Regions from separate parts of the Homo sapiens genome. Here all the other regions are linked to region 2. The links come from fine-mapping of genetic effects on gene expression. A gene starts in region 2. Each other region holds a variant in brackets. All regions are shown on one strand. Distances are between the middles of the regions.

Region 1 (8,178 bases), 58 kb before region 2:
CCGCAGCCCCATTGGCTTATCTCAATCATAGCTATTTTCACATTGATCTGTAACCCTCTGTCTTCCCTGTTAGGACACAGACTCTCTTTGATCTCTGAATACCCAATTCCATAGCAGGCCCTCCAAAGACACTGGCTGAATGAATGAACGAATGAAGTTCTGTCGTTTCTACCTAAGAATTTCTTGAGTTATCCTTCTCCCCTCACCCCATTGACTGCCCAACATAGGGTCCTACTCTTCTCAACAGAACTCTTACAGTAACTTCCTAACTGATGTTCCCTCTCTCCACTTTGCCCTATTCCCACTCACTTTCCTCATTGTCTTGAGGGTTATCTCTCTAAAGGACAAATCAGAGTGTGCCTTTGCTCTGATTAAACCCTTCAGTGCTTCTCATTGCCCTGGGGATAAAGTCAAGGCATCATCTCTTGTCTCTGTCTTTCCTGAGCCCTGTGTCTAGCCATATGAATGGTAGTGTACGTGGTATGGGTGTGTATTTAGGCCCCAGTTCCTCTGCACGTGTGCCTTTTACCTAGGATGTCACTGCCTTTTCTCTGCCTGGAAATCTCCTGTCCATCCTTTGAGCCCCAGCTCAAATGTCCTTTGATCTGTGAAGACTTCTGGGACCCTACAGCCTCCACCTTTAGAGGATTAGATCTCTATTTGAGCATTTGTGGGCTGGCTGTCATAGTTTGCTCACGTATCTATGCCTCCATCTCTCCCCACCTGACTAGATTTTCAGTCCCTGAAGAGCACAGTCCTGAGCTCGGTATCCCTAGCTCCTTGGCAGGCTTCAAAGAATACAAGAGGGAAGGAGGAGGGAGATCCCATCTTCTATGAACAGTGAAAACTGTTGTCGATCCAAAGGGTCTGGAAGAAAAGCCTGCATCGACCCTGTGACTGACAGATCTGCTGAAGACAGCCCAGCCCTCAAACGTAGGCTTGACGCCAACCTCCTTCTTCTCATCTCCCTTCTTCAACCCTCTCCTCTCATTCCTTCCTTCACGCCCTTCTTCCCTTCCTCCCTTTTCCCTCTTTCTGTTTTATTCACTTTCCTTTCCTGCCTTCTTTCCATTGCTGTTTCACTTTGGCATTAATCATATATTGCACAAACCATATTATAGCAATATTAATGGAAGTAAGTAAATAATAGTGCCCCCACAATTCTGCTACTCCAACAAATCAGATTGGTTTCATTTGTCTATATTGCCTTCCCATGTCTGTATGCCCACATCATTTTGCATAGTTGTCATCATAATGTAGTTTTAATTTTGTAGTCTACTTTGTAACTTAATATCAGAAGCATTTTCCATGCTCCTGCATAATCTTCACAATTATTATTGTAATGGCTGAGTAATATTCCATTGAATGGATATGCCAAGTTTTACTTAACTGTTTCCTTTCTGTTGGACAGTTCCAGTTTTTCCCTGTTGCAGAGAGTGCTGTAATAAATAAGCATGTTCTTTTACTTCTTTCTCTTTCTTGCTCCTTCTGTTCCCTTTTTTTTTTTACCTTTTTCTCTCTTCACTTTTTTTTCTTGTATCTCCTTCTGCCTCCTTGACTGCAGCTCTCTCTCCTACAGCAATAATTTGCTTCTGAGTGGATACAGAAATCATCATAGTGGGACCTAGGGTTTTGAGAAAAATTACTAAAAATTTGTAATAAAATGTTCCCAAGGACACTTTTGTTACATTTGTGCCCTTAAAAAGAATTAAATGATAAATCTTTTTGTTCACAAGAGGTAGGAACACAGGACCAGGTGGGACCAGGTAAGACCAAATTGGAGAAGGCTAAAATCTGTGACAGGGACATGTTTATTTGTAGTGGGAGAAAATGAGACACAAATGCCTATCAATAGGGAAATGGCTAAACAAACTATGATGTGTTTATGCTAGAATTATGTATCATTTAGAGATTGCAGAGCTAGATGTACTGACTTGATAAGACTTTTTTAGTGAATCTAGCTGCAGAATATTTGTAGTTTACAATTCATGTAAAAAATAACAAAACCCAAACCCATGATAGTACTACATTTTTTTTGAATATATATATATTTGCATATATAAATGTGTGTATAGGGGTATATACATACTCTTATTTATATGTAATGTAAACATACTTGTGTGTAAATGTACATATACACACACACTTATATTATGCAAATACATAGAAAAATTCCTGGAAATATACACATCAAACTGGTAACAATGGTCACCTCTGCGTTTAGATGAAAGGGTCTTGATTTAGGGAACTGGTTAAATGGAATTTGAGCCTGAACTACAGTGGTTTCACTTTTTTATCAAGGAAAGCGCATTCACATATTGTTTGTATAATGAAACATTAATTGAAAATGTTGCCACTGTTGTGTCTTTCTGCTTACCATCTTGCACTGACCAGCTTCTGATTTAGGGGCTTGCCATCAACAAGTGAAATGTAATAGGAGAATGCTATTAAATATGCAAATGTCCTTTGGGAAGTGTGGGCTTTTTGCTTTTTCAGTTGTAATGTTGGTCTTTTAAGACAGTGCTGGTGGGCCTGGGGCAGGGGAGAACAAGGCCTGCTCTTCCAGGAGATAAGGAGCCCCCCAAATCAGGCATCATCCCAGCCAGTCCTTCCCGCCCTCTCCTGGCAGGTGGAAGTTGGCGGGGGTTGAAGTGTAGTCCCTTGCACTGAGTCCTGGCTGGAGGACAACAGATGGGGCCACACAGCCCTGCTGCTCAGACCGAGGGGAACAGGTGGAGGTTCCAGGGTCAGAGTGTGAATGCTGGCGATTCATGAGTGGTGCAGGTGGGCAGAGTGCCAGCTCAGGGGCAGCGACAGCTGGGCAGCATGTGGGCAGGAGAGGGAGTTGGGCAACGGGGCTGGGAGACTGGGTGGGTCCAGCCATGGAGGAGGAGGTACTAGAGGCCAGAGAACAAGAGAGGGAAAGAGGGGGAAACCCCCTCAGGCTGGACAGGAGTGAGGTCAGAGGTCCCTGGCTGACCTGAGAGGCTTAGGAAGCTGCAGGGTGAGTGGACATGCTGGTAGAGAAGGGTGCCCCTGCTCTGCCTCCTCTCACGTCTCCTTTACCCCCAGCTGTCCCCTACCTAGCCCTAACCTGAGGCATTTGGGCCATTGCAGCAGCTGTGCCAGCCCTTTGGCACTGTCAGGGCATGGGCAGGGGAGGGACGCAGCTGCCACCCACCCCCTTGCAGATAGGGGGTGGGAACGCAAGGAGGTGGCCAGGTTGGAGAAGACTCAAGCACGTGATGGGGCACTGCACTTTTCTCTCCAGAACTACCTGCCCATGTACCCTTCACCCCATTCTCTTTAGTTAGGTGTTAGGGTAGGAAAGGTAATGATCATTATTAGCATTTACCAAACACTCGCTGTAATGCAAGGCACAGTGCTGTTGATTGTATAATGTATCACTGAATCCTCCCAACAGCCCATTAGGAAAGTATTATAATTTCTATTTTACAGATGAGAAAACGGAGGCTTCTTGGTTCAGTAATGTGCACAAAGTCACACACTAAGAAGAGACATAAGTGAGATTTCATGCCAGATTTTTTGGCACTAGAGACCAAACTTAAAACCTTTGAGGAGTATTGAAATAACAGAGAGTTCCATGCCCAGTCGAGGGCCAGCCGTCCCCCAACAAGGGGTAACTTCTGGACGTGGTGGATGGGTCTAAGTTAGCCCTCCTCACTGTGGGAATTGTAGAGCAGCCAGATGAAGTGGGGTGAAAGTAAAGGAGCTGGAAGCCCGGGCCCGGTGACTCACGCCTGTAACCCCAGCACTTTGGGAGGCCGAGGCGGGTGGATCACCTTAGGTCAGGAGTTCAAGACCAGCCTGGCCAACGTGGTGAAACCCCGTCTCTACCAAAAATAGAACATTAGCTAGGCGTGGTGGCAGGCACCTGTAATACCAGTTATTTGGGAGGCTGAGGCAGGAGAATCGCTTGAACCCGGGAGGCGAAGGTTGCAGTGAGCCAAGACCACGCCATTGCATTCCAGCCTGGGCAACAAGATCCAGAGAGGAGGGAAGTGTTCTCTTGGGGCTGGGTTAGATTTGCCTGGAAACGGGAGGAGACAATGCTATGGGAACAAAGCACTTTGGACTGGACGTCAGGAGAGCGAATCTGTCTCTTCCCTCCAAGGGAGCGGGTCTGCTGGGCCTTCTTAGGCGCCGTCCCTTTTGGCCTTTCTGCAGGTGAGCTCAGGAGAGGCTCGGGCAGGTGGGGAGCTGAGGCGCTGCCTGTTTCGTCTGTTCTGGCCCATGATGTCGGGTGAAGCATCTCAGCTGAAGCCTTGCGCAGTGCTCCGCCAGGCGCTATAATGCTGAGCCCAGCTATGGCTCCTCCTTCTTCTCCCTTCCGCGGGAACCCAGCACCTAGCGCGGCGGAGCAGGGAACTCAGGCTGCGGGACTGGGGTCTGGCCCTGCCCAGCTCCTCGCCCACGCCCAGGCTTCCGTTAGGCCAGCAGGGGGACCCCGAGCCCCGGACAACAGCCCTGAGCTGGGCGGCTGCTTCTGGCTCTAGATCCCGCTGCTCAGCCGATCCACCTTCCCCACCTCCCTCCCCCCAGCCTCAGTTTCCTCCTCTGAGAAATGGGAAAATGATTATACTTATTTCACCGGCAATGCTATGATAGTTAAATAATTCTAAACCATAAAGCGTTGTGAGACTTCCTTCTTGTACTCTTGAAGTGTATTATTTTGAACATTGAACATTCAGTCAATGTTTCTTGAGCTCTATGCCCCGGGAGCTATTTTAAGCCCTGGATGAAGTCTGTCCAACTCGGGCCGGGGATAGTGATTGAAATAGAAAAGCTCAGTAAGTGAAGGGCTCCTCTGTGTCTCCCACCCCACTTGACGAGCCAGATGGAGTGAGTGGCTTTTAACTGTAGAGTGGACCCCTCTAGCAAGCTGCTGTTTGCTTTTCTGGTGTGGAAGGTAGGACTTTGGGATGAGCCCACAGAGGACCAGGGAGCCCAGGCCATCCACTACCTCTTTATCC[C/T]GACCTGAGGAACGTGCACTTAGCGCAAATTCCCTTCCTTCCATGCCCAGTGCTCGCTGGTGACAGGGTTCAGGGCAGAGGGGGTGAGGCAGATCTGAAGGGAATGATTCTAGACTAGCACTTTGAGTTCTGCTTAACATCAGGGAGTTGGGGCCAGGATAAGACTGGAGCTGAGGGAATGGGCTGAAGCCGGAATCAGTGGCCAAGCCTCTGTGACCAGTTCTGATTCCTGAGTATAATGAGTGAATGCCTAGTGTTTCCACACCTGGCTTCCATCGCTGCTGGGAGGGGCTTCACTCAGAGAAATAACTATGAGAATGTGTACATGGTGGGCTCTCCTGCAGGCTCTCAGGGGACCCAGGGATACTGGCTGAGGACAGGGGCCATTTCATCCCAGTTAGCTTTTTACTGAGTGGAGCAAAAACTCGTTCCTTCCATGAAGCCTCTGGCTTCAGTCTCAGCCCTTACACCCCAGGACATGGTCCATGAAGCACCTAGTTAGGACTTCAGAAGGATGAGGTGATGGTTCACGTGGAAGATGTTGCTTTTCAGTTCCTTCTGTTTCGTTCCCTCAGTGGGCTGCAGACTCTCTGAGTGGGCTATTGTGATGAACTGGAAAGAACCTTGGAGTGGAAATCAGGAGGCCTGAGCTCACGTTTCAGCTCCAGCACTCAGTGGTTTCAGGCCTCTCCTTGAGCCTCAGTGTTTTAATCTGGCAAAGGGGAGCATAATAGCTTCCCACCCAGGTGGGGTGATGATACAGGGGATAAATGTGAGAAAGGGCCAGACATGTGTTCTGCCTTTTCTTCTGTCTGTATCTACCCTAGAAAAATGAAAACACATCCTCACACAAAAACCTGTACGTGGGCCAGGTGTGGTGGCTCACGCCTGTAATCCCAGCACTTTGGAAGGCTGAGGTGGGTGGATCACCTGAGGTCAGGAGTTTGAGGCCAGGCTGGCCAACATCGTGAAACCCCGTCTCTACTAGAAATACAAAAAATTAGCCAGGTGTGGTGGCTCACACCTGTAATCCCAGCTACTCAGGAGGCTCAGGCAGGAGAATCGCTTGAACCTGGGAGGCGGAGGTTGCAGTGAGCCGAGATCACACCATTGCACTCTAGCCTAGGCAACAAGAGTGAAACTTCGTCTCAAAAAAAAAATAAAATAAAAAAACATGTACACGAATGTTCATAGCAGCATTATTCACAATAACCTAAAAGTGGAAACAAGCTAAATGTCCATCAACTGAAGAACGGATAAACAAAATGTGGCTTGTCCACAGGATGGAATACTATTCAGCCTTAAAAAGGAATGAAGTATGGATACATGCCACAGTTCAGATGAACCTTGAAAACATTATGGTAAGTGAAAGAAGCCAGTCACAAAGGACCATGTATCCTATGTATCATATGATTCCATTTATATGAAATGTCCTGAATAGGCAAATCCATGGAGGCAGAAAGTAAATTAGTGGTTGCTAGGGATGGGTGGTGGAGGGAAGGGTTGGGAAGTGACTACTGATGGGTGCAAAGTTTTTTTGGAGGAAAGGTGATGAAAATGTTCTAAAATTAAATGATGGTGATGGTTGTACAATTCCATAAGTAACTCAAACCACTGAATTGTGCACCTTAAATGGGTGAACTTTATATTATGTAAATTGTATCTCAATAAAGCTGTTAAAAGTTTTTAATTGGGTGTCCTGAATTTAGTCTGGCAGCTTCACTTCTGCCCCTCCTTCCTTCTTTTCTCTAGTCTTGACAGCCTTCTTCTCCCTTTTGGAACATATAGAAGATAGTGGGGGTATTTGTCTTTCTTGAGGGACAAGGACACCTCTTGATGGGTGGGGAGGAATAAGGGAGCGATTAGGGAGTCAGATACCAGGCTGCCTCACCTCCAACAGATATCATCATCTCCCCTGCCTCAATTTCCCCTTCTGCCTAGTGAGGGGAGGGGAAACAGAGGATTGCTTGCCTTTGAACCCTTGGAGGTGCTGTCGGAGGAGTCCAGGAAGGTGGGGTGCATTTGCTGGCTGGGATGGGGTGGGCTGCACAGGACAGCATGAGCGCTTATGAGTCACATGGTGGATCTCCCAGACAGTGGTGGGGTGGCAGGCGGATTGCCCAGAGGCACCTCTTTGGCCGCAGACAGGGGCAGAGAAGCCAAGAAATCTGTGACTGGTGCCCCGTGGGCTAGGGTTAGGGGTAGGGGCTGGGCCACAGGCTGTCAGATGAAGAGGAGCTGGTGCTGGGAGAAGGCTGAGTCTTTAATGGAGCTGCAGCATGGCTGGCCAACTGCTGGCCTTGTGTCAGGTGGGGGGGTGGAGGGGCTTCAGGGAAGGGCTGGGTTGGGGTTGAAGACCTGGGAGCCTCTCCTTAGGACCCAGTGGCAGTGGGGGAGGGCTTGGAGCTGGTGAAGAGCTAGATACTTCCAGGTCTGGGGACATCCAGAGCTCTGTGCCCAGCCAGCTGTCATTAACTGCTTAGCTCCTTGGGGTCTGTGCTCAGCTTCGTTTCCCTCTGATTCATCTCTTCCTTGCCACTGCTTCCCTCCCTCAGACTGTAAGCATGCTCAGAGCTCCCCATCTAAAACCAACCTCTTTTTGACCCCTCTCTCCTGCAGCTCACCATCCATCTTTTGTTCTCATCCCTGCCAAGTTCTTTCAAACTAGACTCATCTGCACCCACGGCCTCTACCTTGCTTACCTGCTGCAGCGTCAACCTTTGAGAGGCACTCCTACTCCCCCATCCCCTGAAGCTTCTTTGAGGTCTCCACACCCTTCTTTTCATGAAATCCACCACATCCCCCTCAGACCTATCATAGCTGCCCTTCAGCCCTCAGCCCCGAACCACTCAGCACCCCTGCTTCCTGAAATGTCTGGTAGCCTGCTCCTCCCCTTTGGCTGCCCTCCCTCTTGATTACTGTGGGCACAGCCCAGCTTCTCCACAGCCTATTCTCTGCATCCTCTCCTGGGTGGCCTCATCTCTCCCAGGGCCTTGACTGTCACCTCCATTGCGATGACCCAGCTCCAGCTCCGATCACCCTTTGGCCATTTCCAGAAGGCTGCTGGACCCCTCCCATGGGCACAGCCAGCCCAACCTGTCCAGGAGTGGACTTCGTATCCCATCCCCCATCCCCCCAACCAGCCTGTCCGTCAAATCTCCCTCATCCTCCTCAGCATTTCCCT
Region 2 (8,178 bases):
TCTCTGTAGGCCCAGAGTGTGAGAGGAAGTGAGTGTGAGGGCCAGGCTGGCCACAGAGCCCCCACACCCAAAATTTGGCTCTTGCCACACTCCCTTGGCCTGCTCCCATCAGCCATCAGCTCTGGGATAGGAGGTTGGGGGCTCCAGGTCCCCCATGAGACAGCACTGTTCCCCTGGCTCCATACCAATCACCAGGATGTCAATGACTGCCTTGGCCTCCAGGTCTTCCACGCGCACAGTGAGCTCGTAGCGGCCAGAGTCGGAGCGCTGGGCCGAGCGAATGAAGAGGATGGAGTCCTGGTCCCCGGTGCGCATGCTCACCCGCTGGCTGTCCAGGGCATGGCCGTTGTGGGTCCATGTGGCCTGAGGCTTAGGCTTCCCCTGGCAGGGAGGAGCCCCCAGGGTGAGTGTAGGGAGGTGCCAGAGTCCCCACACCTCCTTAACTCCAGGAGTCTCTGGAGCTGTTCTCGGGGAAGCCTGTCCCACTGGCCCTTCTCAGGAGGGGCAGCAGAGGCTGGAGCCACAGGTGCTGCCCACAGCCACATCTTCCAGGTGTCCATCCCGCTCTGGGGGCCCACCTGCCCATCCACAGGCTGAGAATCACCAATGAGTCATGTGCATGATTGCGGAAGGATGAAGCCGTCTCGCTGGGTCTCAGCTGGACCCTTGGAGACCCTGCCATCTCCCAGGCTCCCCTTAAATGGGGGCCCTGGTTCCCACCCAGGCTGTTACCCTTGGTGGGGGTAATACCCACCTGGAAGGGGATTTGCAGGTTGACCGTCTCTCCCACCTGGCGGATGTAGGTCTGACGGAGGTGGCGGGGGACACGGATCTTGGGGGCCTCTGGATCAAAGCAAGAGTCTGGGCTTAGCAGTGCAGTGGGGTGGCTGATTGGGGTTTCTGAGATGGGGCAGGGGACAGCTGGTGAGGGATGCTGGCTGGGAGGAGGGTCCTGGGTGTGCCTGGCTGCCATGGGGTCCCTCCTTGCAGGAAGGGTGAAGCTCTCACTCCTGAGGTCTAGGGGCCCAAATCCCTTAAGGGAGCAGGAGGTTTCAGGAGGTCAGCGCCTCCATGGTGTGAACTGGTAAGCATCCTGGGCACTCCCTTGGCGCCTCGACTCTGCCAGGATGGGATTTGTCCTGCAGCCCAGGCATTCCCAAGCACCAGATGGGCCCCAGCTGACTCTCTGTCTCCCCCTGCTGGGGAGCAGGTGCTGCACCTGTCAGGCTGCACTTCTAGGAAGGGGAGGCCACTGCCGTCTTCCTGCTCTAATATCCCCAGCTCTCCACAAGCCCAGGACTTTCAGAGAAGCCTTTGTGAAACCCTGTTTGTCCATTCCTCTGTCTCCAGGCCCTATTGAAAGGTTTAGGATCTTTCTCTTCCCAAGTGAAGCCAGGGCGGGTATCCCCCCTTCTTCCTCTGTCACCCTCCCAAAATCTGTTAGTCTCAGAGCCGGGAAGTCCTTCTTGAAGTCCTATTTCAGCTGCCTGCTATGCTAAGGAATGACATTCTGACCCTCATCTGGTCAGGGGCAACCACTGAAGCCCCTGGGCATTCTAAGGGAAGCTGCAGTGGCCACCATCCCTGTCCCCTGGGGTGGGTGCTGGGTCCATGACTGAGGCTCCTCAGCAGCAAACAGGTGGCAGCAGTTGGTTGGTGGCATGCAGGGCGGAGGAGGACAAGACAGTGAGAAGGAACACGGTGTCTCTGAGGATTAGCTGAGTGGGCACTTGGCTCTGGGAGCTCAGGCATGGAATGCTCTAGGGACAGCTGCAGGGGGTCAAGAATGCTTGGCAGCTCCAGGTGGCCAAGGAGAGACAGCTGAGCAGCCAAGGATCCTGGACAGGGCCCCCACTCTGCCCTGTGATAAGCCTGGCTGTTCCCCACTTGTTCACAGCCTCCTCTCCCTCTTCTCTCCAGGAAATCCCCTTCTCTCCTGCCAGAGGAATTTGAATGGAGAAGTGGGTGCTGAGTCTGGCTGGGTCCATCAATGCTGGGCCTCAGGGGCCTCTCAGAGTCTGAGCTCCCTGGTTCCCTGGGGAAGGCCCAGCACCGTCCCAACCAAGAAGCCTTCCTGGCACCTCCAGGACTAGGGTCGACACAGCCATAATGCAGCTGCCTGGTGGGGCCACATCTCACCTAGAGCCAAAGGCTGGGAATTAGGGTTGGGAGGCTTGGGTTTTGGGTGCCACCAGAGAAGATGCTCTGCAGTGCAGTGGGACATGAGTGGTCCTGTGTAGGCATCAGACTCTGGGACTGCCAATAAAAGGCTGGGTGACCTCAAGGGATGCCCTGGGCTCCTTGGGATCTCCTTGGGCCTTGATAATCTATGAATCTAAGCTCCCTAACCCCATGGTTCCCATGTCTCTCAGGCCTCAGAGCTGAGCATTTCCTTTCGAATCCAGACTTGACCCCTCCTGTGGATCCCCTCTCCTTCTGGAGGCCTTGTCTAGAGCTACCAGAAATCATCCATCCCCTAGTGGAGGAGCAAGAAGGAAGGTGGAGAAGGCTTCAGGCCACCTGCCTGCCTGTGTCTCTCCTCACCCTGGGGGACTGTGCTGTCCCCAGAGACCTCAGATCAGACCAAATGACTCACTGTCATTAACAGACTGAAACCCGATCAGCTCCGGGAGGGGAGCGAGGGGAGGATTGAGGCTAATGCACCTTGCAAATAGAAATATTAGCAATGGGGATGGCAGCTGGCCTGCGGGGCCCCAGTGAGGTATGCCCTCTGCAATGGAGAAGTCTTCATGGGCCTTTTGCAGACCTTCTTTTTCTTTCCACTAGGGCCATGGTGGAACAAGGGGCAAGCAGCGCCTTCTCTCTGTTTCAAGACCTTTGAGAGAATCTGGAACCCAGGCCACAGGAAATGGGCAGAAAATGAGCATTTATGGCCACTGGAGAGATTGAGATTAGATGGGAGATAGAACAGATGGACTCTTAGCATTGAGCAGGTGACCCAGGGAACTTGACCTTTTGTTTCTGAGCCCCTTTCTCAAGGCGTGGGGGCTGGACCACTCAGGGAAATGGCTTCTTAGACCTCCAGAGGCCCCTTACTGCTGAGGAACCTGGAACTTTCTTAAGGCAAGATGGTGATAGCGTGTGGCTTGTGCATGTGAGCGTGGGACGGGGGAAATGACTGCCTGGTTCCCTCTACCTGCTGGCCTCAGTTTCTCCATTAGATAAGGTGTTTGGGAAGGGCTGGGTAGCTGAAGGCCAGGATGGGCTTTACCAATGTTCTCTCGGATGTGGATGGGCTGGTCCAGCATGGCCGGCGGGCCAGCCCCTGCAGAACTCACTGCAGACACGCGCAGGAGGAACTTGTCTCCCAGAGCCAGGTTCCGCACAGTCTGCTGGGTCACCATCATGGGCCGGGCACTCACAGGCACCCACTCCGAGGCTGAGGGGATGGAGAGAGTGTGAGGTCTTTGCAATGTGGCCACAGGCGCCCCTCTCCATGGGGCTTCTTTTCCTGCTGGTGATCTGGGGAAATCAGCCTCCCTCTCTGGGCCTCATTTTCCCCTTGTTTGCCTTCCCTGACTTCTTGTCAAATGGCATCAAAGACACCTGATGTTAGAGCCCTGAAATTGTGGCTAGAGATGAGGTTGTTGAAGCCCAGAGAGGGTTGGACACATTTGCAAAGTCACACAGCAAGGTAGGGGCAGAGGCAGAGGCCAGGCTGGACTTGGGCCATGGAGGGGGACAGTGGCAGCAGGGATGTGGCCCCCACACCCCCACCCCATTCCCGCTTTCTCCTCACTGTCTCTTACGCTAACATTCCCCTCTCCAGCTCCTCCCTTTCCACTTCCTACAGTTCGGGGTCCTCTGAGACTTAGCACTTCCTTCCCTTCTCACCAAAGGAGAACCCAGTGTCCCCTTACCCTTCCCTTACTCAGAAGCTCCTTGGAGCTGAGGACAAGGGAGCCCCTCAACCCACCCACCTACCCTTTCTTGCTCTCCTGCTGGTGGAGCAAGAAAGGGCAGGTGGGTGGGTTGAGGAGCCTACTGCTCGCATCCCCTCCTTCTGTATCTCTCCCAGACTGACCAACCACAGGGCCTGTGCACTTGTCCCTGCAGCCCTCCATGACAACCTCCCCTGGGTGTATGCAAGACTTAGCCCAGCACTCACCTCCCTCTCTGCAGAGCTCCAGCACATAGCCCTGGAGGCCCAGCCTCCCCAGCCTCTCTGGGGGCTCCCAGCTCACAGTCACAGAGCTGCTGCTCACATCATCCAGGGTCAGCAGCAGTGGGGCACTGGGGACATCTGGGGAGATGAAGAGGTTCATGGCCAAGAGCTCCCCTCCACCCCTGACATGCCTGCCTCCCTCCTCCCCCTGCCCCACCTTCAGTCACCTTCACTTGGGGGTGCAGGCTTAGTGGCTGTGGAGGCTGTAGGGGCCTGTGGGGCAGGGGCCTGCGGCTTGGGCACCTGCTCTTCTCTGGTGGACTCTGATACTGCCACTTCTCCGGGAGGCTCTGCTGTGGGCACCTTGGCAGATTCAGATGCGGTCTCCTCTGGACTGCAGGCAGGGCCCTCGGAGGTGTTTTTTTCCATCATTGCTGGACTGGCTGGGGGGCCAGGGTGGAGTGTGCAGGGGTCAGCCGTTGGGGGGCCTGGGCCTCTAGGGTGCCTGGGACACCTAGGTCCAGGCTTATATAGTCAGGGGCTGCCCCACCCCCAGCAAACGATTCCCAGCTGTGGGGTCAGGTCAAGCAGGAGGACTGGAGGGTGGAGAGGCGCCCAGGCCAGGAATAGCTCTGGGGGAGGAACCACAAGGGCCCCTTGAGGAGTCACTTCCTCATCCATCTCCCCGACTGGCCTTCAACAGCCAGGGTGCTGGTGCCCAGCTGGGGGAGGGCGCAGATGGGTGAGATGGGACATCGAGCAGGCCGCGTGCCAGGTGTCAGGGCAATAGGAGGAAGAACTTCTATCTGGAGAATGAGCCCAGCTCAGGCTCTGTGTGTCTGGCGTCTATGGGGCCACTTGTTCCCAGAGCTTCTCAGACTGGGTGCTGGGGCCCTGACAGTTTGGGACAATCGTCCTTGTGAGCACTCCCAGCTTTGCCTCTGGGGTCCACATTCCCTGGGCTCCCACAGTTCCCAGGGACTCTCGCCTGTGCTGTATGAGGCTGAGGGCCCTAGAGAGGGAGGGAATTGAGATGCTGAGGGTGGAGCTGCTCAGAGGATGGTCCTCCAGCATTGGAACCCCAGGAAGGGGCACTAAGTCTCCTGGCTCCTGTCTCAGTTGGGCGGCTGGTAAGGAGCTCGTCTCCCCTGATGCCTGCTGTGGGCCTCAGTTTTCCACCTGTTACAGAGAACCCCTCGCCCTTCGGGATGGGTTGCAGTTGTAGGCAGATCTGGAAGATGCCCTAGTGGAGGAGAGCACTCTGAAGCTTCTAGACTCTTCCAAGCAGGCTGTGGGCATGGGCTTTCTCAGTGTGCCAAAGGAGGCAGATATGGCCAGATTTCTAGTCATTGATTCATTTGTTCGATAAAATGTTAAGACTGGGAATCACTGGAAAGCCAGAAAATGCCATGTGTCAGGAAGGAGGGAGAACATTAAGAACTTTTATTGCTGGTATTGGAGCAGTCACTCTGGAAAATGTGAGAGTTTTACTAGTGCCTAGTAAAATGGATGAGGTGCCTACTCCGTGACCCAGCCGTGCCGCTCATATAACACCCACACATGCCCCAGGAGACATGGAGAAGAAGGTTCATGGCAATGTTATTTGTAATTGTTGAAATGTGGGGGAAAACAGCTGTCCCTCAACAGTGGGATGGATAAATAACTGTGGAGTGTTTATGCAACTGTAAAGCAAAATATGGGGTCAAATGAGCAACTTCAGCTACTCACAGACCCAGTGATGAGCAGAAGAGCAAGGCACACAGAAATGTTGCGTCTCATCTGTCTCATCTACATTAAATCCAAATGCAGTCAACACCAGGCTCCCTTCTTCAAGGTACATCCGTAGGCGGTAAGGCCAGAAAGGAAGATGAGGCCAGTACAAAAGTTAGGATGGCGATTGCCTCTAGGTGGAGGAACAGGGATATCTGTGATCGTGAGGGCTGCAGGGGTGCTAATGAGGTTTCCTTTCCTGACCTGGGTGGTGGTTACACAGGTTCTTACTACATAGTTATTCTTCAAATTAAACAAATACATTTATGCACTCTTTAGCACGTAAGATGTGCTCACAATTTAAAAATAAGTAAAAGTGATTTATTCAGGGCCCTCAGCAGCATGCATGCTCTTCCCTTTCCTGAGGACTGGGGACACCAGGGTGTGGCTGCCTCTCAACCCTGCTGTCTCTGCTGGGGAGTGGCAGTGCAGGGCCTGGGAGCCTCTGGATCTGGCCCTCCCTGGATGCCCTCGCCCTCTGCTAGGTGACTCCACGTCTTGCCAGGCAGGGAGTGGGTCCTGGAGACTGGATCTCCATCCTTGGCCTCTGACTCTGCAGCTATAAGTGAATGTGACTAACCCCACAGGACACTGAGTCAGCCCTGGAGAGCCTGTCCCCGGCTGGGGGAAGGGTGGCCCCAGGGGAGGGCAGTTGGCTGCCCACAAGGGCTTGCAGCCCTGGGGTTTCAAAGATGCCTGTGTGGTGGGGTGGGCAGTGGCAGGGATTAGGGAATACTTGGCCCCACCAGCCAGAGGTGAAATGCCGGGTACCCCCTCCCCACACCCCACTCCACGCCTTGCCGAGTCCTTGTTTTCTTCGCCTTCAGCAGGGCTGTGACCTTGGGATCAGTAGCATCTGCCCAGCTCCAGCTGGTTCAGATTTCAGATATTTCCTCCTTCCCTCCACTTCAAACCGGCGTCACAAACCATCAGGCCAATTTGTGATTATCCTAAGTCACAGATAATCCAAACATCAGAGAATCCACAAATCAATTCTCTTTAGTTCTGGGGTGAGTATCTGGAGCCTTTTTGGATAAAGGCATTCCTGGGGCCCTGGGAATTCAACAGAAGCCTGATGAGAGCGTCTCCACCTCATAAAGGCTGAAAATCTGTCTATTCTTCTGAGTCACCCCATCACATCCTCCCGACCTCCTATCTCAGGCCAGCTTGAGCAGAGGTACTTTGATCTCTGAATGGGTGGAGGGATGAGTGTTAGGGGAGGGGTGAACAGAACAAAGGGCTAAGCCCAGCACTAGGACTATTGACAGATTTCAGCCCAGCCACGGAATGGGTTGCTTCCAAGGTAATCGGCTGCCCCTCACTGGGAGGCTGGAGGGCCATCTCTCAAGCACTCTGCAGGGACTCCAGTCCCGAGAGGCAGGAAGGGTGCATGAGATGACATCTGCATTTCCTGCTGGCCCTGAGGGTCCAGGGTTCAGGGCTTTCTAACCTGGTCCTGTGATGAGCTCCCACCACCTTCCTGTGGATCAGAAGAGAGGGAGTGTTGGGATGAAAAGCCTTCTTTCCCAGGGCCTGCTAGCCTTCAGGAAACAGAAAACGTTTCTTTCAACAGGGAATTTAATTTAGAAATCTGGATGGCAATGACTTTAATATTTGGAAGGCCATCAGCCATGCTTGGGTTAAGTCCAAGGCAGGTGAATCTGAGGACGCTGGCCTCCCACTGGGGCTCTCTGCGGCTAGGCAGAGGACATGGCGGCCTCATCTCTGCAAGCTCAGGGGTCCCAAGGCTCAGAGGAAGGAACCCAGAAGAGATGGGGGAGGTGAGTCCAGTGGGTCTAGTGGGCGCTCAAAGATAGACCAAAGCAAAGCGCCAACACACTGTTAAGCTCTTGTACTTTATTGAGCAGCTGTGGAATTAGGAAGGGGAAGTAGGATAGGGGACACGATTACGTTCCTAAGTGAAGGTTTCAAGCTGGGCTTTGCAGGGGGTATAATTAGTATGGTCACTGTGTCTTGTAGGATGTTTGGCTCCTTGGTGATAGAGCTTGCCAAAATGGTGTCCTTTGATAAGGAGGGCTGGGGGGCAGGGAGTTGAAGAAATTCCCTTGCCAGGCTTGGGGATCTGTAAACATTTCCATTAATCAACAAGTGTGTACTAATCCCGAGTCTTACATTGCGATGCCTCACTATCCCCACAGCCCCATCCCTACCTCTCTGCCCACCAGGGCTGAGCTCAAATCTGTGTGTTGTGGACCTCTGCATAGGCCCCAAGGGAGGGAGACTGAGGCTCAGCCTGGGACTCAGCAGGGCAGGTGATCAGG
Region 3 (8,178 bases), 27 kb after region 2:
TTGAGCCTCAGCTCCTCACAGGATTGTGGTAAGAATTCAGTGAGGTATGCATGTGAGGGTCTGGCACGGAGCAGATGCTCTGAGGAGGCCGGTTCTCCTTCTCCAACCCCACCTTCATTTCTGGCTCTCCCATGAGATTTCCACCCTCTGCAGTTGAGATGATCCTGTGGCTCCCCCACTAAACACTGAATTTGGAAAACGCATACAGCAGAGCTACATGGATCCCTTTTGCCAGAATGGAGATGGGTCAGATAGCAGTTATAACTCCCTTTAAGAGCCTTCAACATTAAAACAGGCAACTAGCCTGGGCGTGGTGGCTCATGCCTATAATCCCAGCATTTTGGGAGGCCAAGGCAGGCAGATCACCTGAGGTCAGGAGTTCGAGACCAGCCTAGCCAACATGGTGAAACCCCGTCTCTACTAAAAAGACTCAGGTGTGGTGGCATGCACCTGTAATCCCAGCTATTTGGGAGACTGAGGCAGAAGAACCCCTTGAACCCAGGAGGCAGAGGTTGCAGTGAGCTGAGATCTTGCCATTGCACTCCAGCCTGGGTGAGAGAGCAAGACCCTGTTTCAAAGAAAACAGGCAAATAAAGCTATCTTCAGACTCTCCATCCTTAGGAGTACTTAGGGGACCAGGCCTCATCCTTAGGCGACCGGGCCCTTTGGCCTGCGATGAGATGAGAAGGTCCTTCCTGAAGCCTGGAGATGGATGCGATTTGAGAACAGCTTATGTGGTAAGGAGGCTGTGGTAGAGAGAATAATGGCTCCCCAAAGATGTCCATGTCTTAGACCCCAGAGCCTGGAAACATGTAACCACACATGGCAAAAGAGACTTTGAAGATGTATCTAAGTTAAGAGTCTTAGTTGGGGAGGTTATTTTGGATTATCTGGGTGGGCCCAATATAATCACAGAGGTCCTTATGAGCGGATGATGGAGGGTCAGACACAGAAAAGGGGATGTGACAAGGGCAGCAGAGGTAGGAGTGATGTGCTCTGAAGATGAAGGAAGGAGCCACGAGCCAAGGGATGCGGGCAGCTTCTAGAAGGTTAGAAAGGCAGGGAAATAGATTCTGCTCTGGAGACTCCAGAAGGAACACAGCCCTGTGGACATCTTGATTTTAGCTTTATCAAACTTATTTTAGGCTTGTAACCTCAAAAAACTGTAAGACATTAAATATGTGCTGTCTTAAGCCATTATAATTTGTGGTAATTAGTTATAGCGGCCACAGAAAACTAATACAGAGATTGTTTTCTCCATTGACAATGAGGAAGCAGAGAGCAGGTGACCTTTCCAAGTCACTTGGCTGCTAAATACAGAGCCTGTACTGGAGCCCAGTCTCTAGGCTTCCTTTGACCAGGCATGGCCCAAGGCAAACCTGAGTGCAGGGAGTGTGAGGACATGCCTGAAAGTGACCTTTCTCCTGCTAGGCAAGGGCCTGGAGGAGGTGAAACCTGCGTGGTCTTCAATGCCCCTGACATTTGAAAGAAAGTGCCAGCTCCTCAATAAAAACATGCTCGAGGCAGACCTACCCAGGTTGGCACTGGATGAAGACCTCCCTGGTGGGGAGAAAGAAGCAGCTGGATTGCATGATCCCTACCCTGTCCCTCGGATTCACCAAGATGCACATTTCCCTTGAGAGGTTGTAGCCAAGGTGGTCTCAGGGGCACTGGTCACCCCTTAACACTCTGGCCCAGGAGGTGGCACAGTCCTCCCCCTGAAAAGCAGAGCCTGAGCCAAGGCATTCAGATAAGACTCAGGGGAGGCTTGAGGGTGAGGCAGGGGAAGTGCACGCTTTGAGGTGGGTCCTGGACAGTCAGACGTTCAAGCTATGCTCGACTCCTGATTCCATACGGAGGGCGCCATCTGTTTAGGGACCCCTGTTGAAAGATGCACCCCTGCTCCCAAGTCGGGGCCCTCTTCCATCTCCCTAAGGCTAGTCTTCTGAGCTCTGGTTTCCAATAAAGATACAACCTTTCCCCAGGGATTGGAGCTGGGCACCTCCTCTTTGTGGAGACAGAGCTCTCTATCTACAGACATGACCTGACTCATCACTCAGGCCACAGCTGAACCGAGAGAATATAACAGTCCCCCAACATCCACATCACTTCCACACTTCCACTGTTTGGGTAAAGCATTACATTACTCTCTGGAGCCCAGAGTCTTTTGGCTGAAAGACTAATTCACTCCATTATTCATCCTGAGGGGCAAGGGAGACTTGCTATGGGTGCCAAGTGCCCAACACATGCTATTCCAGTCACAACCCGCCCTGCCGAATGCTGGAATGGAGGTGTTGGCCTTATCCCTCTCAGTAGGTGAGCAAACGGAAGCTGAGAGAGGATCAGTGCTTTGCCCAAAGTCGTGCACATTTTATGTGGTTGAGCAAGACTTGAACTGAATTCAGCTCTTTCAACACTGAGTGCGAGGGTTGTTTAAGTAAGGCTGCCCTCATGGGATAAAAGGAGAGTGGGAGGAAAAAGAGAGAGAGCCAATATTGTAAGAAAATTCATGAAACACAGTGGGACAATAGGACAGAACAGTTGAAACTGGGACTGTCCTAGATAGCTGGTATAGATCTTGCCAAGAAAGGAAGTCAGAAGCTAACTATAGACTGAGGACCACGGGTGTAAGAACACGGTCAGTCCCTGGATTCTGCCACTTCTCCTTGTTGGTAATTTTCCATTCTCCCCACTGCTCCCCTGCAATGACTAGCACATAAACCCTGAAACTGAAAGGGACAGCTAGGAAGCAGATAGCCAGTCTTTGTCCAGTTCTGCAGCTATTTTAGGGAGAGAAAGAAACTCAACAATATGGTGTTTATGAGGAAAGTTTTGAGAAAACGTAAAAATAAGCGGAAAGGAGAGTGAATCTTTGGTGGCTTAGAAGGATAAACTAAAGAGCTCACAGGAGTCTGCCAGGGACTAAGGGCAGCATGTGTTCATTCTTTCAGGAAAGAGTTACTGAGCCCCTATTAGGTGCCAAGTCCTGGGCTAGGGTGGGGAGAGTGAGGAGTGGAACCTCCTTTAGTTAGGACAGTCAGGGAGGCTTCTCCGAGGAGGTGATCTTAAGCAGAAATCTGAGGGATGAGAGGGAGTCAGCTACCTCAAGAAGAGAGAAAATGATCCAGGCAGAGAACACCATATGCAAAGTCCTGGAGGTGAGAAAGAGCTTAGTGTGTTGGAAAAAAAAAAAGAGAAAAGCACAAGCAAGCTGACCAGCTGGCTAGAGTAGTTTGGGGATGTGGGGAGAGACAAGAGGCCCCGGGGAGAGAGGCAGGTCTGTGTCCTGGGGCCTGTGGAAACCACAGAGGGGTTTTGTCCTCTGTGCAATGGGACACCACTGGATGTTTAAGCAGGTAGTCCAGGATAGAGTTTATGTTTTGGAAAGTCACTCTAGTGGCTCTGTAGGGAATAGATTTGTGGTATGGCAAGAGTGGAAGAGGCATGAACATAAGCAGCTGTTAAAGAGGTCCAGGCAAGAGATGCGGTGGCCTGCCCTGGGCTGGGGACGTGGAGGTGGAAAGAAGGGTGGACTATGGACATTCCTTGGAGGGAACATCCGCACACTTACAGATGAGTTGGATGTAAAAGGATGAGGGAATAGAGGGACCAGGAACCACCCAGGGGGTCCTACCTTTAGCAAGGTGGACAAGGTTGTGCTAATTGTTTAATGTGAGGAATTCATGGGGTGGAGATAAGTTTTAGAGTAGGGGGTCTGTCTCAGCCATATTAAAGAACTGTTTATGCCTTATCTGGGTAGAGAGAGCAAGCGGGCTGGTGGATACATGCATCTGGAGCTTGGAGGAGAGGTCTAGGCTGCGGATACAGTCATTGGTGTCAAGATGCTATTTAAAGCCATGGGAACGGATGAGTTCACGTAGAGCAAGAAGGGCAGAAGCCCATGCCTGAGCCCTGAGGCATCCTGACATTTAGAGATCAGGTGGTGGAAGAGACCCAGAAGGTACAACGGCAACTATATCATTCAGCCCGACATCCACAGGCCCTGCAGGTTCAGCCCCAGTCTGCCAGGTGCTAGGGCCAGCAGAGGAGGGGGACAGGGCCCTTGCCCTCAATGGGCCCAGGGTCTATGTAGAAGGCAGTTGTTGAGCCAATACTTACAATATAATATGGTAAAGATGGGCCCAGGAGAAGGAACTAGAAGAAATGACTGTGGTCCCAGGTCCCAGAAGCTAGGGCTATGACTGAGTCTGGGAGGGGCCATGGGCCTCAGAAAGATGGAGAGAAAAGTTGCAGAGGGCCAGGCGCGGTGGCTCATGCCTGTAATCCTGGCACTTTGGGAGGCCAAGGCAGGCAAATCACGACATCAAGAGATCAAGACCATCCTGGCCAACATGGTGAAACCCCGTCTCTATTAAAAATACAAAAATTAGCTGGGTATGGTGGTCGGTGCCTGTAATCCCAGCTACTTGGGAGGCTGAGGCAGGAGAATCGCTTGAACCTGGGAGGCAGAGATTGCAGTGAGCCGAGATTTCGCCACTGCACTGCAGCCTGGGCGACAGAGCAAGATTCTGTCGAAAAATAAAAAAGAAAAGAGGCAGAGGCTGGGAACTATTCCAGGTCTGGCATCCTTCCCTGAGACCTCCAAGTCCCCTTGAAGCTTGTTGCCCATCCTTCCCTTCCGCTCGCCGCCAGCCTCCCACCCCACCTCCTAGTCCGCCTCCAGTTTCTCCACACTGCCCGATCTTCTTCCAGCAGAGCCCCTACCGCTCATGAGTAACAACATGGAGCCCTGCTCATTCCTCATTCCCATTCCTACCCCAGGCCTCCAGGTCTCCACCCCTTCCCTGACAGGCCAGCCTTCTCAGGAGATGTGTTTTCTACAACTA[G/C]GATTAACTTGACAGGAAAATGACCACAGCCTGAAGCCTTGCCCTCCATCAGGGAGGGATGCTGTCTCCAAAACAGTTGCTTCATTTCCTGCTGTTGAGAAATCATGCCTGTTGACCAGCTTACATTTCACATTACTAAGAAAGGAGAGAAATCTGCCCTGCTGAACTTCTTAGACAGAAACTTGGTTAACCCCCTGGGTTTGTGGGTGAGGGTCCTGCACGAACCCCCTTCCCTCCTGTCAGCTGCAAGTGCAGCGGCTGGGCTGCTGGTTTACATTGCTGCCTGGGTCATGGTGCCCACTCAGTTCGCTCTCTCCCATGGCTATGTGCAGTCCACAAACCTGGACCGTTTGGCCTCAGCCTCTCTCCATCCTTATCCCCTCCTGCCTCCCGGGTCTTCGCGTGCCTGGTCCAGTCTGGACACACCCTGGCCCTCAATCTGAGGTCATGGCTCTGAGTCTCATGGCTGACTGCCTGAGACTGCAGTGAGGTCTGAACCCTCATTCAAAACTCGATCTCAGTTCTGTTGTTTCTTTACGTTAGGGTCCCCACAGATCATCCAACCAGAGGAAATTTCCTCTGAACATATTTAATTTGTTCTTTTTTAATTGTTTATGACTCATTTAATCTTGAATTATAATACTTTGTGGGCATGCCTTATCCCCTCTCTTCTAGACTCTATAAACTCCAGAAGCTCAGGCCTTGAATCTGGAGTCAAATCTCATTTATCTTCATCCACAGTCTCAGCCAAGAGCTTGGACATGCTTGTGGAATGGATGAGTTTTGATTAGAATTGTAGAAGGAGAATTTGAGCTGATTGATATGGGAAATGCAACCTAGGGATTGATTTGTTGGTTCTGTACAAAAAAGTACCACTAACAGCTAGGAGCAGAGTCTATAAAGGGGATAGAGAGCAGTTCATTTATTCACTCGTTCATTCAACAAACACATATTAAGCATCTACTATTTGCCAGAAGTAGTATTAGATTCCGGAGATATAGTAACAAACAAGGCTGATAAAGTCCTGGTCACATGGAGTTTCTCTTCTAGCTCAGAAAGACGGATAGTCAACAGCAAACAAACAAACAAACAAAAAACAAAACAAAACAAAAAACACCGCGCAGCAGTAAGTGCCATGATAATAAACAATTTGGAGTGATGTGAGAGAGTGACAGGGAGGTGGTTGAAAGGACTCTCTGAAGAAGTGATGCTTAAGGGGAGACCTGAAGGGTAAGCTGGGCTGCTATGGGAAGATCTGGGCATGGAAAACCAAGCCCAGGAAGCAAGAATAGATCAGACCAAGTTTTGAGGTCAGGGCAGGTGGGGAATAGAGATGGGACGAGTTTAATGGGTTCAGAAAACAGAAAGAAGGAAAGAGTAGCTGGATCATTTGTTCATTGCCTCATGGTGATCAAGGGGGCAATGAACAAAGATAATCAACAGTTCAATAGGAAGATAATGGCAAGGTAGACAATACAAATGGTATAGTATCAACAGCAGAAGCTTTGATCTGCGGATGAATTGGAGTCCTGGCCAATTGTTATGGTGTGTGAGCTTGGGCAACTTTTCTAGGTCTTACTTTTCTCAAGCCTAGTTTTTAGAGTTCTTGCAAAGATGAAATGGTATAATAGAAATGAGCATCTACCAAATGACTTTGTGTAAATGGTAGCCTACAATCCAGGTAATAATCTGAAAACCAGCCTTACAAGATCAGGGTTGACCAGAAGCATGGAGCAGAAAGTAATGACCCAGCAGCTGGGCCTAACGAGCCCTCCTTGCTGCTCCTAACCTCATCACCCTCTTTCCCTCTCCTTTCCACTGGCCTGCCCTTTCCTGCCCTTCACGTTTTCCTTATTTTTCTCTAGTCTTTCTCCTTTTCCTACCACAATTTCTCACTCTTTCTTTCCTTTACATTCTTTTAAGTCACACCATCTCAACTGCCTTCAATTTGGAAAACATATTCTAACATATTGATCATGTTTATTTTGCATGGTTTTGTCTTCCTTTAAAAATCAGGTGTTCTGAATGTTTTATACATCTTTCCTAATTAAAAAGAAACAGCAGCAGCCACATCAAACTTCAGTAATTTTATACAGTGATGTGGCCCTTGTATGATTATGATTTTCCACTGAGGTCACTGCCCCTTAATAGAAAATGGCTCCCACCACTGGATTAAGGGATTAGAAAGAGATTGTCTCAAGGCATTTAGGGTCTGGTGTGCTGGGAGATCTCTCCACTGGCAGGGAGGGGAGGTCTGGATGTGTTCAAAGGTCAGTGGCCTCTGAGTCACTGCAGGGATGCTCTGGAGCACAGCCTGGGCATCTGGCTCCACCGCTGGCTGGCTGAAGCTCAGTGGTTGCTGCAGATGTGGAACCCGAAAGGTGGAAGGGCAGGGAAGGCCTGTGGGGTCAGCTAGTGCAGACTGAGATCCTGAGGAATCTGTAAGGACAGGCTCTGGTGTGAAGTGCAATGTAAGACACCCTCCCTCCCATTGTTCCAGGCCCCTGTGCTTGGCCAAGAAAGGACAAGTTTCCTCTGCAAGCATGCGTGTTGCACAAGGGTGGGGTGTGTGTGTGCGTCTGCTCGTGCACATGCATACACGTGTGTCAGGAGGAGGAAGCCATAGAGCAAGTCCCCCATGTTTAGCTCAGGATGATATTGCAAGGAGTCTTCTGGATGGGGGATCAGGGTGAAGAAGTGATGCTTGATGCCAAGTGGAGACTCTGACCCTCCCTTGCTTTCCTTATTTTCTGAGAAGAGGTACCCAGTGGCTGGCAGTGGCCAGCTGTGGCCAGTAGGTCATCTAGTCCAACCTGCCGACTGTACAATGGGACACAGAGGACTTGGGATGAGAAGTGACTTGTCCAGGGGGCAAAGACCTCTTGATCTTCCCTCCATACCAAGTCACATTTGCGTCCAGGCGATGGCAGTAGGAAGATGGTGGGGTGACATTCCTTCTGTACTCTGACTTTAGGGGTCCCAGATGTCGAACATGAAGCCCTGTCCTGGCTCATGTTATGGAGCCAAGTCCCTTCATACTCCAGGGTTGGGTGAAGTAGCTCTGGGTTGTGCAGCAGAAGGCAGCCCAGGACTTAACCGTGGGCACAGATAAGCCACATGTGGCATACAGAGAGCTAACTTTAAACATGGAGAGGGTGGAGGTTTCCACCTCTAAGGAGGCCCAAGTAAGGTCATACGAACTAAGGCTACAGCTTGGCCATCTTACTCTAGATGCCAGGAAGGAGCTTAGGGAAATAAGGGCACCAGCGGGTGGGTCTGGGCTGGTTTGGGTGGACTGGCTCCCCCGTGTCCCTGCTGCTCTGCTTCAGAC

Evidence for each region.
Region 1: its variant is fine-mapped to the expression of MYBPH in monocytes (TOPMed, PIP 0.97).
Region 3: its variant is fine-mapped to the expression of MYBPH in whole blood (TOPMed, PIP above 0.99).

The regions. Positions count from the first base shown.
Region 1 is chr1:203,113,535-203,121,712 of GRCh38, forward strand. No RefSeq gene overlaps it. Among named protein-coding and RNA genes, the nearest start is that of ADORA1, 10 kb to the right of the region's middle. The variant C/T (reference allele first, on the strand shown) is at 4,995.
Region 2 is chr1:203,171,198-203,179,375 of GRCh38, forward strand. MYBPH (myosin binding protein H) reads right to left here and starts at 4,629. Exons shown (of 11, transcript NM_004997.3): 1 at 4,354-4,629; 2 at 4,130-4,264; 3 at 3,233-3,400; 4 at 755-843; 5 at 186-381; 6 at 1-3. The coding sequence starts at 4,558. CHI3L1 (chitinase 3 like 1) reads right to left here. Exons shown (of 10, transcript NM_001276.4): 10 at 7,734-8,178. RefSeq lists enhancers at 2,764-3,293, 6,211-7,410.
Region 3 is chr1:203,197,838-203,206,015 of GRCh38, forward strand. No RefSeq gene overlaps it. Among named protein-coding and RNA genes, the nearest start is that of CHI3L1, 15 kb to the left of the region's middle. The variant G/C (reference allele first, on the strand shown) is at 4,848.